Linked DNA regions of Homo sapiens. The protein of the gene in region 2 interacts with the protein of the main gene of each other region in a pairwise test. Each region holds a gene or a part of one and is shown on either strand. Other genes may lie near its edges.

What was found. Proteins that work in one complex are often made in the same cells at the same time.
Region 1: the proteins of ZNF510 (region 2) and PTPRJ interact in a two-hybrid assay, tested with the Homo sapiens proteins (one large-scale study listed by BioGRID and IntAct).
Region 3: the proteins of ZNF510 (region 2) and ODC1 interact in a two-hybrid assay, tested with the Homo sapiens proteins (one large-scale study listed by BioGRID and IntAct).
Region 4: the proteins of ZNF510 (region 2) and DLC1 interact in a two-hybrid assay, tested with the Homo sapiens proteins (one large-scale study listed by BioGRID and IntAct).

Annotation. Positions count from the first base shown.
Region 1 is NC_000011.10:48,133,550-48,138,540, reverse strand, and holds part of PTPRJ (receptor-type tyrosine-protein phosphatase eta isoform 1 precursor), read right to left. Parts: intron 2,503-4,991; coding exon 2,245-2,502; intron 1,539-2,244; coding exon 1,260-1,538; intron 1-1,259. UniProt on the Homo sapiens protein: Tyrosine phosphatase which dephosphorylates or contributes to the dephosphorylation of CTNND1, FLT3, PDGFRB, MET, KDR, LYN, SRC, MAPK1, MAPK3, EGFR, TJP1, OCLN, PIK3R1 and PIK3R2. Plays a role in cell adhesion, migration, proliferation and differentiation.
Region 2 is NC_000009.12:96,774,449-96,780,000, forward strand, and holds the start of ZNF510 (zinc finger protein 510), read right to left. Parts: upstream 3,640-5,552; 5' UTR 3,586-3,639; exon of another isoform or gene 3,134-3,585; intron 1,798-3,133; 5' UTR 1,622-1,797; coding exon 1,552-1,621; intron 399-1,551; coding exon 340-398; intron 1-339. UniProt on the Homo sapiens protein: May be involved in transcriptional regulation.
Region 3 is NC_000002.12:10,441,416-10,445,836, forward strand, and holds part of ODC1 (ornithine decarboxylase), read right to left. Parts: intron 3,850-4,421; 5' UTR 3,740-3,849; intron 3,635-3,739; 5' UTR 3,618-3,634; coding exon 3,516-3,617; intron 3,233-3,515; coding exon 3,059-3,232; intron 2,853-3,058; coding exon 2,680-2,852; intron 2,422-2,679; coding exon 2,287-2,421; intron 2,157-2,286; coding exon 2,075-2,156; intron 1,899-2,074; coding exon 1,815-1,898; intron 760-1,814; coding exon 597-759; intron 515-596; coding exon 402-514; intron 309-401; coding exon 94-308; intron 1-93. UniProt on the Homo sapiens protein: Catalyzes the first and rate-limiting step of polyamine biosynthesis that converts ornithine into putrescine, which is the precursor for the polyamines, spermidine and spermine.
Region 4 is NC_000008.11:13,083,870-13,088,860, forward strand, and holds part of DLC1 (rho GTPase-activating protein 7), read right to left. Parts: intron 4,836-4,991; coding exon 4,618-4,835; intron 2,595-4,617; coding exon 2,421-2,594; intron 2,063-2,420; coding exon 1,942-2,062; 3' UTR 1-1,941. UniProt on the Homo sapiens protein: Functions as a GTPase-activating protein for the small GTPases RHOA, RHOB, RHOC and CDC42, terminating their downstream signaling.

The sequences.
Region 1 (4,991 bases), on a different chromosome or scaffold from region 2:
ACAACTGGAGGACAGTATTATCATTAATTGAATGTCACAGAATTTTAGAGCAGGAGAAGCTCTACCAAGGCACCTAGTGCAACACCCACATTTGCCACCCAGGGCCTGGAAAGGTAACCTGAACACTGCACCCACTTTTACAGCTCCTGTTCCACCCACACCCAGTCATAAATGCTCAGATACAGTTTTTCTCTTGCTATAGGCTACAAATAACTATAGCTAAGATAAATATCAGCAATGAAAGGCACCCAAATATCAAAGATGGGTGTCTAGACCAGGTGGGATGGAGCAGAAGTGACCCAAAGCTGCAGGGATTTCTGTGGCCACCCCACTCACCACTGAAAAGCCAGAGGCCATCAAGGCTGGAGCTCCTATACTACCAGGGAGGCTGATCCCATGAGACCATCACTTCCAAATCAGCCTGAACATATCTGAATGGCCTGGGCTAAAAAGGGAAGAGGTAGGAGCGAGAAGGGCAGAAAATGAGTAGTGCACGGGTGCTGAGTGATAAAGGTGCCACAGTCAGCACTGTGAGCAGAAGTGCCCACCACTGTCTGCAAAGCCTTTCCTGGGCTGCCCTGAAAGCATCCTCAATTACACAGAGGGCTCTTCTCTTTATCACACATTTTCAGTTGTGAGATAGGTGAGGATCAAGAAGGATGCAAAGGCTGGGCATCATTTCAATAAACTTTTCATCTTCTCCAGCACAAAAGACAAACCAATGCCAGATATCATCCACATCCTGGCTCAGCCCCACTCAGGCCTCACCTCCCACCTATATCCTCCTGTTCCTGCGGGTCCACTCCTCCCACCCTTGCCTCCTGCTCTTCCTCCAGCCTCCAGATACAGTGGTGATGCTGCACAGGCCCCTCTGCACAGGCCTCTGCCTGTAATGTTCTCATGCCCTGATATCCACATGGCTGGCTCCTTCCCTTCATTCAGATCTTTGCTCAAAAGTCACCTTGTCATTGAGGCCTTTCCTGAGCACTCTAGGTAAACATCCCACTTCCTCCTTCGAAAAGTTCCAAGAAGGCAAGGACTTGACTGGCATATGGTATATGCTCAATAAATATTTATTGAATGCAGAAATGATGAGGGCATCGAGACAGCACCGATAAGCTAACAGGATGCCTCGGAAAGCTCAATGTCCATCACTGCACATCACACAAAACCAGACAAACTACAGACTTGGGAGGACTGACCTGCAAGGTCAGCACCACTCAGGGAGGAGTCCAAGAGGCAGTTGGGGCTACACTCACCTGTACAGAATGACTTCCGGCCAGGTTCCAGTGACTTGATCCCATCCCCTACTTGTGCAAAGATCTCCACTGTGTATGATGAGCCAGGTATTAATTCAGTGACTGTAGCGTCAGTAATTCCAATGTCCGTGACTACTTGTGTTGCGTTGCTGGAATTTCCAGCCTTCTCAATAAGAAGGCAGTAGGAGTACGTGGGAGAGGCGTCATCAAAGTTCTGCCAACTTAAAGTTGCTGCTGTGGTGTTGGTACTTACATCAATGTTGGACACATTGCTGGGCCCTTGATTTTAAAAAAAAGGCAATTCATGTAAAAGCACAGATTAAGTAGAATTCCAGGACTATTTACTATATCCAAAAATAGCCTGGCTCGTTTTAGAAAGAATGAATAAAACTAGTATTTGCTGGCTCAAAAGATGGAAAACTTCCCAAAAACACATCAAGAAAATAATTATACAGATTAAGTCTCAAAAGAAGTTTAATTTAGGCTTCTTTTAATACTTCAAGTTTATTTCAAATATATTTTTAACATTTAATTTCTAATCTGTTTTTTAAATCTAATAGATGGAGAAAAATATACTAAAAACATATTACAAACTAACATCTTTACCATGTATTTAATTCAAATATTCGCAAAACACCTCCCTAACTGTTGCAGGCGAAGCTCCTCATCTGGGCAGTATCTTCCAATACCAACATGACAAGGTGACCCTTCTCTACTCTGTATTCTCAAGGAATGACTAGAACCATTTCAGTCACCATTCCCAAGGAATCATTTCTTCCTTCTAATGACAATTCTAAGTTCACATAGCTTGAAGAACAGTGCCCCATGGTGACAGCAGAACCATTGCTGAGACCAATGTTTTCAACTTCAGCAGTTTCAGAGTCAACCTGGATCCCAGAAGCACACTGGCCATCATTTAACCAGTGCCTCCTCCAAGAGACAGTTAGAGAGGCTGTTCCTTAGAAGGGCATCCTAAGAGACTTACGTGTGTACTGTGCAGTGGAGTTGGGGTCCCCCCAGACGTGGTCCACTTCTGGAGAGATGGTGATGTTATATAAGGTGCCCGGAATCAGGCCCTGGAGAGTAATCGCTTTGTCATACGTGCTTGTGTGGTTAGAGCCATGCTTGGACTCTATGACTAAATGGTAGACATACTCGGAAGCACCGTCAGGGCTCTTCCAGTCCAGCCACATCTCCGTGGTGGTGACGTAGACCACGTGGATGTCAAACACTGCACTGGGAACTGCTCAGAAGAAAGGAAGGAGAAGGGAAAACTGTTACTATCATGACGCCCAGCTTCCTCTCCAAGTGCTGTCGAGAGGACCTGCTCTTTTGCCATTACGCTTTCTAATGAGTTCACAAAAGGCACACTCCAAAATCGAGCTGAGAAATGCACACACTCAGTGCTCTCAAGAATTTCAGCTCTTCTGTGACGCACATGAACTTCCCAGTTTATCTTACCAGTTCTCCAGTTTTTTGTTGTTGTCTTAAAAATGAGCCCTTAGGCTGGGTGCAATGGCTCATGCCTGTAATCCCAACATTTTGGGAAGCCGAGATGGATCACTTGAGGTCAGAGGTTCGAGACTAGCCTGGCCAACATGGTGAAAACCCATCTCTACTAAAAATACAAAAATTAGTTGGGTGTGGTGGTACACGCCTGTAATCCCAGCTACTCGGGAGGCTGGGGCACAAGAGTCGCTTGAACCCAGAAGGCAGAGGTTGCAGTGAGCCGATATCACACCACTGCACTCCAGCCTGGGCGACAGAATGAGGCTCTGTCTCAAAAAAAAAAAAAAAAAAAAAAAGGCCAGGCGCGGTGGATCACGCCTGTAATCCCAGCACTTTGGGCAGCCAAGGCAGGCGGATCACCTGAAGTCGGGAGTTTGAGACCAGCCTGACCAGCATGGAGAAACCCCGTCTCTATCAAAAAAAGTACAAAATTAGCCGGGCGTGGTGGTGCATGCCTGTAGTCCCAGCTACTTGGGAGGCTGAGGCAGGAGAATCACTTGAACCCGGAAGGCAGAGGTTGCAGTGAGCCAAGATCGCGCCATCGCACTCCAGCCTGGGCAACAAGAGCGAAACTCCATCTCAAAAAAAAAAAAAAAAAAAAAGCCCTTCAAGGGGTCATCTGAAGTGGAAATCACATTCAGTTTTTTTATATGGGTGCTGGTAACAAGATGTGTTCAGTTTGTAAAAGTTCATGAAGCTATGTGCTGAGGATACATCCCTTTTCGGTATGTATATTATATCTCAATAAAGAGGTTTTTTTGTTTTGTTGTGTTTTTTAAATCAGTCACTCAGAAGGAAACATCTTCCCGTGACACAGCCTTACATACCAAAGAGGAAAACTGAAATGGAGAGCTGACCTTTACTAAGTTGCAGCATTTGAGGACGGATGAGGAAGGGAAGAAAACAGGCACACCCTGCACCTTCAGAGCAGAGTCAGAAATGGAATCTCCCACAGGAGCCCATCCTCCGATCATCTCCCGCTGCCCACTCAGCCACCTGCACCAGGGATGCCTACATAGAGGCCCGGAAGTAACCGCGGAGGCTGGGCCTATTTTCTACCGCGGCTTTCAACCCTGTCTCTCTTTACCTGGCAACAAACGTCACCTCCAGGGAGAGGAAATGGGCAGGTAGGGGACAAAAAAGGGAAATGCTTTCACTGCAAACACCTTGTCCAAAAAACAAAAAAAATTGTGCCATGTTTACGTACTATCTACTCCAAAATTAATTTTTTTTTTAATTTTAAGTGGATTCTCCTTACAGAGAAGCCACTGGGAGGAGCCTTTGTTTCCTACCAGCAGATTCCTGATGTCAAAGGGATTCCACAGACAAAAGCCCATGAAAGGCAGCCTTTGTCTATAAACATAAAAACCTAGAAACAACCTAAATATTCAATAACATGGGGAGGGCTGTGGGCACTGTGATCTGGCTGCATGATGAAATACTCTTTAGCCACTAAAAATATGAAGGCCATGCTAACTATAGGGGAAAGTTGTGGTATAGACTGAGTAAAAAGAAATTCAAATACAAAATAAAAGTATTTGTATAATAATTACAGTATACAAGCAAAATGTATGACTGTGGACACAGAGAGAAAAGGAATTCAGTTGGGTTAGAAAAATAGAGATATTTGTTCCTTTTCATTTTTATTGTGGTAAAACATACATACCATAATATTTATCATCTTAACCATTTGTCAGTGTACAATTCGGTATCATCAATATTCACAATGTTGTGTAACTATCACCACTACCTGTACCCAAAACACTGTCATTATCCCCAGCATAAACTGTAGCCATTAAACAATAATGCCCACTCCCTCCTCTGAACAGCCCCTGGTAACCTCTATTCTAATTTCTGTAGAATATTAAGTTGCCTAATCTAGGTACTCATGTAAGTGGAATCATCCAGTATTTGTCCTTCTGTGTCTGGCTTCACTTAGCATAATGTCCTCAAGATCCATCCATGTTGTACCATAAATCAGAATTTCTTTCTTTCTTATGGCTGAATAGTATTTTGTTGTATGGATGAACCACATTTTATCTATCCATTCATTTGTTGATGGGATCTTGGGTCCACCTTTGGCTACTGTGAACAATGCTACTACTATGAACACTGATGTACAAATAACTGTCCAGGGGCCTGTTTTCAATTCTTTTGGAGATATACATAGGACTGGAATTACTGGATCATATGGTATTCGTTTCCTTTTTTTGAAATTGCTTT
Region 2 (5,552 bases):
ACCAACAAAGACATTTTCCCTGACTTTGATAACTTTAGATTCCATGAGGAATCAGCCTGGTTTTAAGCTTCTCATCAATGCAAATCTGTAAAAAAAATACTGTCTGTCTGGCTCTCTGCCATGGCTATCAGAAAGAATGAAAACTGCAGTTCCATTTTGGAAAATCTGTAACATCAGGCGACCTCCATCTTTCCACATGCCAATTCTGCTGTGCTACTGCCCTGCTTTTCTATATATTCCTTGAATGATTTTGATCCATTTCTACATTTCCATATTAATATGTGGACCCTTAAACACCTATGAAATCCATGATGAAAAAGGTATTAGTAATTAACTCACCTGAGATATGTTCATTTTCTGCTGCTCCTGAAAGAGTGTGGAGAACCGTAAAGGATAACCTGGGGGTGAGGAAGGAGTCATGAGAGATCTGGGCAGCCTCCATCTTACCTGCCTACCAATGTCATCACACCAGCTGGGGAAAAAGGCCTCTCTACAAAAAATGTTCCTTTGACCTTTGAGAAGGGACAAGCAGCACTACAGAGAAAGCACCTCCTGAATATGTGCATCTTTAATATGATCATGTGGATGAACCCTTGCTGTGTGTGTGTGTTTTTTTGTTTTTTTTTTTTGAGACAGGATCTGGCTCTGTTGCCCAGGCTGGAGTGCAGCGGTGTGATCTCAGTTCACTGCAACTTCTGCCTCCTGGGTTCATGCAATTCTCCCGTCTCAGCCTCCTGAGTTGCTGGGACCAAAGGCACCCACCACTACACCCAGCTAATTTTTGTATTTTTTGTAGAAATGGGGTTTCACCATGTAGCTTAGGCTGGTCTCGAACTCCTGACCTCAAGCAATCTGCCCGCCTTGGCCTCCCAAAATGCTGGGATTGCAGGGGTGAGCCACCAGGCCTGGCCCCTTGCTGTTTTTCATCAGGCGATTGTAGACTATTTTCCTATTGATTTATTTAAAATGTATGTCTTCTTTGACTAACAACTTAAACAGAATTAACATTAATATTCTGTTAATATTATTTACACCAATAGAAAACACAAAACTGAAAAAAAGGAGATGCTGAAAGACTATTTTAAAATATTTTTGTTCTAACTTATAGTTTCTCAAAAGACTTTCGATAAGACACTTCTGGTGACTCACCTGTGACAGAGTGAACAGCACTGTGCTTTGCTCCAAGCTCTGTCCTGAGTGACCATGGACAAACTGTTCATCCTAGGTTCAATACTTTTTAAGGTTTTAAGAGTCAGAAATAGAAATCCTTTCCTGTATTATCATTTTTGTGATTCTACAGGTTCAGGATAGAGGCAACCTTAGTAAATTTCTAGATGCTACATGTGATGGATGTTGTGTGAGAGTGACTCAGAATCTGGAAAGAGTGAGGCAAGAATGAAGAAAATGGGGGCTCTATGAGGAGGATTAGAGACAATTTCCTCAGCCCTGGCTGGTTATGCCTTCCTTGGAGACCATGGAGAAAAGCCCTCCAGTAATGTGGCTTTTCCTGTGCAGTCTGACAGTCACCCACGCCTCTCAACCCCAGCTTACCACCTTCTGCAAGTTGGCCCACAGTGTTCAGTGTCACACAATCTGTGATGGCTTCTGGATGTGGCGACATCACCAAGTCTGGTGCTCTCTGGGCAAGGGGATGAAGAAGTGCCGCTGGTTGGGCAAATCAAGACCTGCTCCTTTCTGGGTTCTTCTGCATCTGTTTGGAAGCCCTGGTGAGGAGGTCTCTGTTCTGTCAGAGAGCAGTTCTTCGGTGGGACTCCTGTTCCTGGGGCTCCCTCCTTCCTGCAACATAAAGAGCTGCTTTGCTCCAGAGAAGCTGGGGCTGATGCCTGGGTAACAAATTTATTTTAGTTGAAACTTTCATGGAAAACAGTGTTCTTCACGTCAGCACAACTTCCATTTTGGGCTGGATAATCCTCTGACATAAGGAGTGGTCCTGTGCATTGCAGGATGTTTAAGAGCATTTCTAAACATGCACTAGACACTAGGACACCCCTTCTCCCTGTTGTGACAATCAGAAACGTCTCCAGGCCGGGCGTGGTGGCTCACGCCTGTAATCCCAGGACTGTGGGAGGCCAAGGCAGGTGGATCACCTGAGGTCAGGAGTTCAAGATAAGCCTGGCCAATATGGTGAAACCCCACCTCTACTAAAAATACAAAAAATTAGCTGGGCATGGCCATGCATGCTTGTAATTCCAGCTGAGATTACAAGCTGGGAGGCTGGGGCAGGAGAATCAGTTGAACCTGGGAGGTGGAGGTTGCAGTGAGCCAAGATCACACCACTGCCCTCCAGCCTGGGCGACAGAGAGAAACTCAGTCCCCTCTCCCCCCACCAAAAAAGTCTCCAACATTTCCAAAGTTCCCTAGGGAGCAAAATCCTCCTGGTGAAGAAGTGACCTAAGGCCTTAAACCTGATTCTCTTGGCATTAATTAGAACCCTGCTATCCATGACTACAGCCTCCAATCACATCAACTACTGAGCACTGGAAATGTGGCTAGGACCACATGTTGAAATAACATTTTGGATACACTGAGAAAACCACAGTATGTTCTTAAAATTAATTTCATGTTTTAGATTTTCATGTAGCTACTAGTTTAACATTTAAAATTACGTATGTGACTCATCTTCACTGCCCTAGAATATCAGACTGACTTCTAAAGACAGAGACAGGAGGGACAGCACAGGAGGTGGCAGGGGCCTCAGTCTAACCCAGAGGCTCTGGAGACATCCCAGAAACCCCACAACAAATACACTTGCCACATAGTAAGATTCTGTCCACACTGACTTCACAATCATTGTCCTGGGGTTTTGGGGACAATCACTCAGTGCTGTGAAGGCTGCAATGCTGGGTTAGGTAGGTAGGCCATTACAAACAGCCTGATTCGGGGAGTAAAGTGTTTATGTATTGACATCCTAGCTCTCTCATCCTTTGTGAGCTTGGCTCTATCTTTTCACTCCTCCTTCTTCATTTTTAATGATATAAATAGGGTGGTTGTGAGAATTAAACGAAATACTACATGAAAAGAACAAAGTGTCTTCCAAATATAACGGGAATCAACATTTACATGCTGCTTAGTAACTAGCGCTTAGCTAAATGCTTTACAGGGGATGGCTTACCTCTGAACGACACAAAGCAGTTTTTACTAATATCCTCATTTTCAAACGCTCAAGTGACAGAGCCAAAATTCACGAGGTCCTTCTAGCTCCTAGGCTCGGCCTCTCACCGCAGACCCACGGGCTGTACGCGCTTTGTGGCAGGTTCATGGTCAATACAATAAACGCGCATTCCCCTCCTGAAGCCAGCACCGCGTTTTCCGACGCCTGGCTGCATTCTGGCGCCCATACCTCGGCCCGCACCGAGCATCTTCCAACTAGGACTCAGCCCCACCTAACGCCCCCGGAGCCCGCCCCCACCGGCCCTTCTCAGGCTGAGGTCCCGGGCCGGCCGAGGCACAGGGAGCGACGGCCTGCTTTGGGGGAGTTCCCGGGACGTCGCGTTCCCGCCCCCTGGACACTAGCACATCCCTCCCTGCAGGTCCGCAATCCGCGTGGAGGCCCGGCGCTCTCACCTGAGCTGCGAACCCTCTGCACCAGCAAACACTAACAGGGAGAAGCCGGAAAGTGGGGTTGACTGCACATGCGCAGACGAAAACGCGCATATCCGTTCCCAGCATGCTGCGCGGTAACCCATAACATGCAAGACTACGTTTCACATGCAGTACGGCGCCAGCTGTCAGTGTTTTTTTGTTTGTTTTTCCCCCAAGATTTATGGCGTAATAACATGGACCGTCCTGATAACTGGAGCCCGGGTTCTGTCAGAGCCCCAGAGGTTGTGGGTTAGACTTGATGACATAACAGCAAATGCAGCGTGTGGTTACAGAAAGCAAGAGCCGCGGAAGACGTTTGAAAACAATTGGGAAAATTTGTATACGGACTGGAAATTAGAATTATTAATTAATTGTGGCAGCATTGGGATTATGTAGGTAATCTTGCTTATTCATAAAGAGATGTCTATGTAAGTATTTAGGATTGTATTATGTTTGTAAGTTTTTGGGTTTTTTGGTTTTTTTTTTTTTTTTTGAGACGGAGTCTTACTCTGTCGCCCAGGCTGGAGTGCAGTGGCGCGATCTCGGCTAACTGCAACCTCCGCCTCCCGGGTTCAAGCGATTCTCCTGCCTCAGCCTCCCAAGTAGCTGGGACTACAGGCGCCCGCCACTACGCCCAGCTAATTTTTGTATTTTTAGTAGAGACGGGGTTTCACCATGTTGGCCAGGCTGGTCTCGAACTCCTCACCTCAAGTGATCCGCCTGCCTTGGCCTCCCAAAGTGCTGGGTATACAGGCGTGAGCTACCACTCCCGGCCCGTTTGTAAGTTCTTTTTAAAAAATAATTAGAAATGGGAAGTATGGCAAAATGTTAAGAATATCTACTTCTAGAATATGGACATGCTTATTGACTATGTGTTGGAAAATTTTATAATATAAAGTTGATAAAGGGAAAATTGGGACTGTAATGTTACAAGTGTGCCTTTTAACTTAGAGCTGCCACAAAAATACATAAACAGCTTTGTGAATAAAGCCGTAAAATGTAACAAATACTAGAAAATGGAAACCATTATTAACATAAAAGAATAATATTTGTGATCCTCAGTTTATCTCTGGGGGGAAAAAAAGAAAAAGCAAGTAAGCTGTTCAGCATTACATAATACCTGAAGTACACACAATCCCAACTAAGAAAACCGTTATCCACAAATTATGCATCTCCTAGAGATGAGCTTGCTTAAATCTTATGTGGTATGCTTCTGAAATCAGGAACCAAATTAGGAACCTCTCAGCACAGTATTTTATGACACTCTTTTTAGTAACACACATACACTCACACACACACGGTTGATACTTTCTAACAGGTTATTTTATATGGCAATGATAAGTTTTGATTAGCAAGAAAAAAGATTAATGGCAACAGTAAACTAGTGCAGTATATATGAATCAAGGTATAAAATTTTACTGTTGACACTGAAAAACACTTTAATAGATACTGGAGGAAAAGACTAACATTTGTTTTTAAAAATTCTAATCATCTATGTTTTCTAAGTATATATTTTCTTTTTTTGACATTTATATATTTTGCCTGTTTTCCTAAAGGAACTATTCCAATTTTCATTCTAATAAAAACTTATGGTAATGATCAGAAAAGAATTGAAAATGCATAGCAATATCTCTATATTTACTATGTATACTATCACTAAATATTTAAAAATTTATCCTGGTGCAGTAAAAGTTCAACTATATGAAAAAGAAAGAATGTAGTATGTATCAGCTGGCTTTTAAAGCAGTGGAAAGAGAACCTTCAGTAACCTTGTTAGGACAATGAGATAGGTGCTGGGACAAAGGACATATCCATGGCACTAACATTACAATCAATAATTTTCACAAGGATTCATTCAACAATAAGCAATTAATAATATCAAAGTTTTAAATTTTTAAATTATACATTTCTTAAGTTTTTAAGAGAAACAGGTGTTTTAAAAAGATAAA
Region 3 (4,421 bases), on a different chromosome or scaffold from region 2:
GGCAAGACAATTTCTTATTCGTCTAGACAAGAAGCACACATCCAAGAAGGTGCCTATTCTTGGCAGCACCATCAACATGCATGGCTTACTTACCACGCAGGCCCTGACATCACATAGTAGATCGTCGGCCTCTGGAAGCCATTGAACGTAGAGGCAGCAGCAACAGTGTAAGCGCCCATGTTTTCAAAGAGCATCCAATCACCCACATGCATTTCAGGCAGGTCACAGCGCTCAACAATCCGATCGAGGCCATCACATGTTGGTCCCCATATGCTGGATGAATAATACTTCTCATCTGGTTTAGGTCTCTATATAAAGAGACGGAGAGAGGAAGTACTACTTAATTACACGTGTTGTGACCAGTCCTCTTAATTGTTTTATACAGTATGCTCAGAAATTACCTTTTGCAGAAGGGGCTTTACATGTGCGTGGTCATAGAGTATGCAATTAAATGATCCATAGACGCCATCATTCACATAATACATAAAGGTCTGCTCACTCGACTCATCTTCGTCTAGAAAGGCAGATCAACAATCTTAATGACTTTTTGCATCAGCTTTCAGTTATACATGAAGTGATTCGTCCTTTATACATACCATCAGAGCCCGTCTGTTCCTTTAATACAATTTTCTTGGCAATGATATTAACTGCAAGCGTGAAAGCTGATGCAACATAGTATCTGCCGGGCTCAGCTATGATTCTCACTCCAGAGTCTGACGGAAAGTATTTGTCCAACGCTGGGTTGATTACGCCGGTGATCTAAGAGAGTGAAACAGAAAAGAAAGAGCAGCCTTCATTGTGGGAAATTCACATGGGGGAGTAACATCACAGGGCCTTGTGACATGACATCATGAGACCAGGCATCAACAGACAGGTTTATCATTAAAGTAACAAAAGCAAAAAAACATCAACATCTCCCTGAAAACCAGGCTACATATCCCAGGTGGCTCGTTTTCATTCCCCTCCAGGCACCCTATCTCCTTTAGGATGTTATGGGTATGATTTTTATCAAAGAACAGTACGCAACTAACTACTACCTAGGAAGGCATCAAGATGTCAAAACATTTTAACAAATACATGCCAACAGGATAAAAATCCTATTCTGCCTACGTCATGATTTTAACAAACCATGTGGATATATTTTATAAATTCAAGCACCAATATAATGGCTTAACTTCCTAAGTGACTAAACATTTCAAGTATTTTAAGGAGAGGAAGCATAGGTCTAGCAAAGCACATTTGGGGTGATGATGTGCTACAGTCAGCATATTCTCTAGGAAGCCCACAGCAACATGCTTTTTCTTTTTTTTTTTTGAGACAGGGTCTCACTCTGTAGCCCAGGCTGAGTGCAGTGGCATGATCATGGCTCACTGCAGCCTCAACCTCCTGGGCTCAAGTGATCCTCCCACCTCAGCCTTCCAAGTAGCTGGGATTACAGGTGCCCGCCACCACACCAGGCTAATTTTAAAATTTTTTTTGTAGAGATGGGGTCTCACTGTGTTGCCCAGGCTGGTCTCAAACTCCTGGGCTCAAGTGATCCTACCACCTTGGCCTCCCCAAGTGCTGGATTACAGGTGTGAGCCATGATTTCCAATGTAACCAATTATCCAAGACTTCTGGGAAAGCTGATTCACACTTTAGAAAACCAAATGGTATCAAGTGTAATGTCAGACAGCACAAAGAAATCACTCAAAATATCACACCAAGACACTTCAGCCCATTGTGGTATTAGTTAAGACACTTAAATTTTGAAATATTCCAAAAAGGAATTTATTAGAACGGCTACTGAGTATTACAGTTTTGTTCTAAATTACCTCTTCAAATTTAAGTTTCACATCCTCAGATCCAGGAAAGCCACCGCCAATATCAAGCAGATACATGCTGAAACCAACCTCAGCCTAGAATCAAGAAAATAAGTCAGCCAGATCCACAGCTAATAACAAAAATGTATGCAGCAGATAGGCTGAAACCCATGTAATACAGAACCAACTGCCATAAAAAGTTAACTCTAGAATTAAGACTAGTTATTGTCAGTTGTGTCCCGCCCTTCCCTAACAGGGTCACGTATACTCACCCCCATGTCAAAAACACAGCGGGCATCAGAGATTGCCTGCACGAAGGTCTCAGGATCGGTACAGCCGCTTCCTACATGGAAGCTGGGGTAAAATAAAGAGACGAGACACTGTGTCTTAGTATTTCTTAAAATAATAGCAAACACTAGGAGAAAGCCTGTAAAACTCAAACTGTTCAATGTCTTGACCTCTAGCTATCCCACCAAAATCTCACCTGACACCAACAACATCGATATTTAGCTCTTTCGCCCGTTCCAAAAGGAGCCTGCTGGTTCTGAGCGTGGCACCGAATTTCACACTGAGACGACAGACTGCTTTGGAATCATCAGTGGCAATCCGCAAAACCAACCTACAAGCAAGGAAAGTGCAGCAAATGTCTCATGATAGATGTTCACTTATAGCCACAATTAAAATAAAAACAATCCTGTTCTAAATACTGTCGCTGATATATTCTGTAGTTTGAGTCCCAGGCTTCATGACTCAATGGGGGTTTCAACTACTTTCTACTAAAGTATAGAAATATAATAATCAGAAATTTAAGTTTGTTTGATAAGAATCCACATATCTTATGCTCCCGATCTTGCCCTCAGATGGGGGAATAACTCACTTTGCTTTGGGATGTGCTCTGGCAACTTTCATCAACTCAACTTCACTATCAAAAGTCATCATCTGGACTCCATTATTAGCAGCATACTTAATTTGAGATACTTGTTTACAAGGATTTGCATAGATAATCCTCTCTGGAGGCACCCCCAGACTCTGCACCAACTGTATTTCAGTCTGAAAAAGAAGAGTGGTGTCATGCTATCCATATGTGGCTTAACACGTGGAATAAACAGAAAAGCATGGGAAGTTGTCATGTACCCCCCCGCCCCATTTGCCTTTAGTGAGCATTTATTGCCCAAAAAACACAACTTGTATCTGCCTCGTGGGGAATACCAGGCCCATTTTATACAACGCTTTTGAGGCCTGCTGCTATCGCTTACCTTGCTAGCACAGTCAAATCCTGTCCCGGTAGCAGCAAGGGTCTTCACGATGGCTTTGCTATCATTACATTTGACTGCATAAAAGGGGGTGACACGAGGGAGAGCTTTTAACCACCTCAGATGTTTCTTTAGAATGTCTCCCAGGTCTGCCACATAGAAGGCATCCTTATCATCCTGAAACAAGAGTGGTCACAGGTGACTCACTAGCAGCCTCACCACACACCACACCAATAGCCAGCGACCTTCATTCCCATCAGTCACAATGAATCCTGCTCTTTTGAGTCTAGCCACTGATATGAGTATCACCATTATCACTATTAATTTACCACCAGTGAATTAATTTCTACATTCCATAACAAGACATGTAAGCCTCATTGCTCTTCCTTAGACCTTGCCAAAGTTTTCCACTTGCCTGGCACTCTCAGCTGCACTGCCAGCATGGGCCTCATATACTTACAGAAGAAGAAACTTCATTAATTTTCTGGTCCAGAATGTCCTTGGCAGTAAAACCTTCATCGAGGAAGTGGCAGTCAAACTCTTCATTACCAAAGTTGTTCATGATTTCTTGATGTTCCTCTGAAATGCAACAAAATGCAAATAGAGTGGAGAAATTCACTTAGAAGCCTTAGCAATACAATTCTTAAGATTAACCTGCAACATAAATGTAAACTGAATACTTACATGGAAAACTAAGAGATGGAATTGAAAGAAATATTTCCAGCTTCTCACAAAGGCAACTCTCCAGGAATTCCAAATCCCTCTGCGTGTGCCCTTGGAACAGCAGTGACAATCTGAGAAATAAAATAGGGAATTTGCTGTCTACCTTAGGAACACATCGAGTTGAAGATGGGGCACTGGCTGAGCACACGCAGAGCTAATCATGCCCCGGATATGAACCACTCACTGGCCTGGTCATCCTAATTATTACTAGGCATAAGGTACATGATTCCATAAACCTTGGCAGTATAAGGACACAACAAAAAATACCAGGTTTTTCCAAGGCAGCACACTAAGCATTTCAAATATTTGTACCAAAAAAATCTAGCATGCAAGTTTCAGAAGCTTATCTGCACTTAGCTCACTGATATGGAAAAAAGTCTTATAATGGTCTGATTTATTTCAGAGCAGTTTCAGTTCCTTAGAAACTTAAAATAGCATTATAGACTTTTTTATTTTTTTTGAGACAGAGTCTCACGCTGTCACCCAGGCTGGAGTGCAGCGGTGCAATCTTGGCTCACTGCAACCTCTGCCTCCCGGGTTCAAGCGATTCTCCTGCCTCAGCCTCCCCAGCAGCTGGGATTACAGGCGCCTGCCACCATGCCCGGCTAATTTTTGTGTTTTTAGTAGAGACAGGATTTCACCA
Region 4 (4,991 bases), on a different chromosome or scaffold from region 2:
TTTAAGGGTGGGAGTGAGATGCAATATTAAGGAAGGCAGCCCAGACTTTTCCCTTACTTTAAACATTTAATAATAGTGCACTTATTGATTATAATCTGTACAGATATAGAGCAAGTTATAAACCTCTTCCTTTTATTTATTTTCTTCACTTAGACTGTATTCACGTAAAGTGTATTTACAATAAGAAGAAAAAAGCCTTGAGGTACAAAACCCAAAAGAATATCTGAGGTATAAATACAAGTATATCTTAAATAATAATCTTTATCATGCTTTATCTATGTTTGAAAGCACAGTGGACATGTTTCTTAATAGAATGGTATATACAACATACAATCTTACAAATCTGGAAGCCATCAAAATTGAATATCCATGTATATCTTCATGAGGAACACTGATATCCAAAATACTCAAATTTTAAAACTCTAATCTGATGCCCTGCCCCAAAATTCTTCAAAGAACCTTTGAAATAACACTGAAAATGGTAACTAAATTATAACAAAATAAAAATCCTTCTTACAGCTCTCATTCATACATTATTCACTTTTGATCCATACACAATAAATTTACTAATACTGTCTCTTGAGTCAATCCTTACCATTACAGTAAAACCTGAATAAAGACCACCCTTCTAAAGGTTCTAAAAAACTTCACTGGTTTGGGTTGGTTTTCTTCTTGTTGCGTTTTACTATGATTACTATTTTTCATTACCACTTAAATATATTTCCAGGGCATTCTAAAGGAAAAAAAAAAAAAAAGAAATGTAGGAAAAATAAAATAAGACAAAAAGTCATAAAACCAGAAAACCTATTTGCTGATAAGAACAAGCCCAATGAATAAACACATGTGGCTTTCAGGAATGCCGTTAACAACCAAAGGCGGGGAAAAAGCCTTTTGTAGGTGAGTTAAATTTACAGGGATTTCCTTGGGACACACATAGTTTCCTATATTCCCAAACATAGTGTCTTAAGGCGTTTCTGTTACAAACACAAAAATGCAAAGAATTCTAACAGGGAAAAAGTGTTGATGCTTGATTTAAGAGTAAGTGTTATCGTGTTCAGTTTTTATATCTCGACTTAAACAAAAAACAAAACAAAACAAAACAAAACCCTGTGGATCAGAGCCAGTAAGGCTAGAGGGAGCAGTTCATCCCTGAACTAATCCATACTGGTTAAAACTACATCACTATTTGCAATCGGGTCTAAAAATAAACTGCATTTGGAATGGGTGTAAGAGCCAACCTATTACAATCAAAGTACAGAAGAGGTTCGTGGAAAAGGAATATGCTTAATAACTTCGAAAAAAAATACCCATAAATGGACAAGGGTGTTGGGCCCCCTTTCTGGGTGGATTCAGGGGTAGTCAGATATTCCAGGTTAAACTGAACCTGATGCATCAATCTCCTTCTTGGAGGTGTCTCAGTGTGCCAGACACTGAATCCACCTTAGACATCTATTGCCATTCAGCCAGCAACAAACACACATTCACACTCCTCTGTGCAAACCTTTCTTTGCTCATCTTGGTGAGAAAACACATCCAAGAGTACCAACTATTCCAGTGGATACACCAGTCCCTCAACACACTGCAAATAAAGCGACACAGGTACGCATACACTGATATCACAAGAGAATGAAGTATCTTCATTATCTTCCATAATGTATTTAAAGAGTTTTGCTTCTCAGAAGCAATTTGAATAAGAATACACATAAATTTTTTTTTTTTTTTTGCACAGTCTTACATATTCCAGTCAAGGTCTATGAATACAGACCCTCAACAAACAGGAAGCAGCTTTAAAAATGTATCAAATTGCTATAGTCAATTCCTACACTCCAGCTTGTAGTTTTCTTTGTTTCAGGATTAGACACAGAACCCATTCTTCAAGGACTGGCAAAAGTTCTAGAAACAAACACCATGGTGGTGGAAGCGGTTGCGTTGCTTCAGTGATCACCTAGATTTGGTGTCTTTGGTTTCAGTGTTCTGGTTACTGAAGGAATCCCGGATCTTTACAACTTCAGCTGCACACAAATGTCCAAAAGATTTTGTGTACCATTCTGGCATGTGGCCCCTATCAGAGAAAAGAAAGAAAAGCTGATGAATTATTTAAGTTAGAAAGCATGGAAATAAAATGAGAAACATCTGTTTGCTAGTTCAAATGCATAAAATCTATCATTTCCCATGCCTTTGAATTCATGGCCGAGCTACCATATTTGCTTTGCTTTAGAACCACATTTTCTAAGGGAACCAAATTACGAAGTGGTCGCTGAAAGACCAACAAACATGAAATGCTACTTTCTAAACACCATTCTTCATGAAGTCACCAAGAAAAAATGACGTGTTTGTTTAAGGCATTCTTTGCATTAGACAAAAAGTCAGAATTTCCTTCATGACCCTCACCATATAAAAAAATCAGAATCAGAACATACCTTAAGTCAACTCTGCACATGTAGGTGAGTTTGGATTTTCCTGGCCCACAGGGTTCAATCAAATACCTGGACAAGAGCACATTAACCCTCACACCCACCACAGGTGCGCGATCGTGATCCACAGAGGTTAGTAAAAGGGCACAGGCTCCTTTGGGTAAATTAGTCCTCCAGGTTCTGTAGAGACAAAACCAGAGGCAGAAATGATGGAATTTCATAGAAGCCAAGTTTAAAATCGTGCTTCACTCTTCACTATTTGCAGTGTGGTGACGGGTCAGGCTCAGTGGCCATGCTGTGTGACCCAGGCCTAGGTAAATGGCATCCTCTAAACTACTTGCTATGGTGTACATGTGTTCCCCAAAAAGCATGTGATGGAAAGTGAATGCCCAATACAACAGTGTTGGGAGGTGGGGCCTAATGGGAGCTGGATTAATGCCAATTATAAAAGAGCTTAAGGCTGGGTTCCATGGCTCACGCCTGTAATCCCAGCACTTTGGGAAGCTGGGGAGGGAGGACTGCTTGAGCTCAGGAGTTCAAGACCAGCCTGGACAACATAGTGATACCTCATCTCTACTAAAAATAAAAAATATTAGCCGGGCATGGTGGTGTGCTCCTGTAGTCTCAGCTACTCCGGGGGCTGAGATGGTAGGATTGCTTAAGCTGTAATCATGCCACTGTACTCAAACTTGGGCAACAAAGTGATACCCCCCCATCTCAAAATAAATAAATATAAAAATAAAAATGGCTTGAGGCTGCACATTTGCTCTTTTGCTCTCCCTTGCCCTCTCTTTGCCCTTCCACTATGGGATGACACAGCAAAAAGACCCTCATTAGGCATGGTGGGTGGCCCATGCCTGTAATCCCGGCGCTTTGGGAGGTTGAGGTAGGAGGATCGCTTGAGCCCAGGAGTTTTGAGACCAGCCTGGACAATATGGTGACACCATGTCTCTACCAGAAACAAAAAAATTAGCCAGGTGTGATGGCACATGCCTGCAGTCCCAACTACTTGGGAGGCTGAGGGGGGAGGATTGCTTGAGCCTGGGAGGTGAAGGCTTCAGCAGCCATGAGTGTGCCACTGCACCCTAGCCTTGGTGACAGAATGAAACCATGTCCCCAAATCAATCAAACAACCAACCAACTAACCAGATGCAACTACTTGATCTTGAACTTCCCAGCCTTTAGAACCATGAGCCAAATAAATATCTGTTCATTATAATTGCCTGGTCTGTGAGATTCTGTTAGAGCAGCATTACATGCACGAAGACACTGTACAAGGACTGCTGAATGAGGAACTCTGTACAGAGCCGTTGTTACAGAGGGTTTATGTGCTCAGACAGTCTCCTCTTTGAAAAAAGAGCCCATTTGAAGTGTAGCTTAAAACCATTTTTCTATTTCACAAATGTCTTGGAACACAGACACCTAAAGGAGCGCTGGCTGTTTGAAAAGGTCTGGACTTCCAATGTGACATTTCCACAAAGATTTTTGGAATTCTTCTTTCAGTAATATCTCCAGAGAATTTATGAATTACACATACATCAGCCTTAACCACATCTCCCTTGGGACTCAAATGTTATTTCCTGGCTTATTCATTCACTAGCTGTTTCTGACAAGAAAATCTATCCTAAAAGGGGCAAAAATCTGCTACGAATGAGCATATTCATTGGAAGGGGCCTCTCTTTCTGAGCTCAGTTACCAAAGAGTTCAGACCATTCTCAGCGAGGAACACACTGCTAGAATAAATGTAGATCTGTTTTCCATATTTGAAGGTGTTCACTACTTTTCTGGAAGCATATGTTTTGTTTTGTTTATTCAGAAATAAGGTCTTGCTCTGTTGCCCAGGCTGCGGTACAGTGGCATGCTCACAGCTCACTGCGGCCTCAAACTCCTGGCTCAAGGGATCCTCCTGCCTCGGCCTCCCGAGTAGCTAGGACTACAGGCATGCACCACAACATCTAGCTGATTTTTAAAATTTTTTTGTAGAGATAGGGTCTTGCTATATTACCCAGGCTGGTCTTGAACTGCTGGCCTCAAGTGATCCTCCCACCTTGGCCTCCCAGAGTGCTGGGATTACAGGTGTGAGCCACCATATGCCCGGCCTCTACTTTAAATAATTATACCATCTTGTAAGATCAGTGACATATAGGCTTGGTTCATATATGGAGTCATCCTTGTCACAAAAAAACAACTGGGAAGCGCTCACCTTAAAACAACGTAGTCTCGAGCAGGATGAGGTGCCATACTGTTTTGGACATACTGGTAAATTTCAGTTTGGCTGTCCAGAATTTCGATCACTTTTGAATCCAACAGGTCTACATCCCAGAGGTGCTGTTCTTTAAGTAGGCGCTTTAAGATTTCCTCTGGCACAGCAGGGACTTCAATGACTGACCTCCAAAGCCTCAGAGGGGGTCCTTCGCTCACCTGGAAAGAGGATGTATTTTTCAGTGCCAAGGCAATCCATACACACCTAGTTTTTGAAGTCGAATTGTTAGTTAGACTAACAATTTTAGTTACATATAATCAACGTTAATTGATTAAATGATATAAATAATACTATATAATCAGTATATAAAGAAA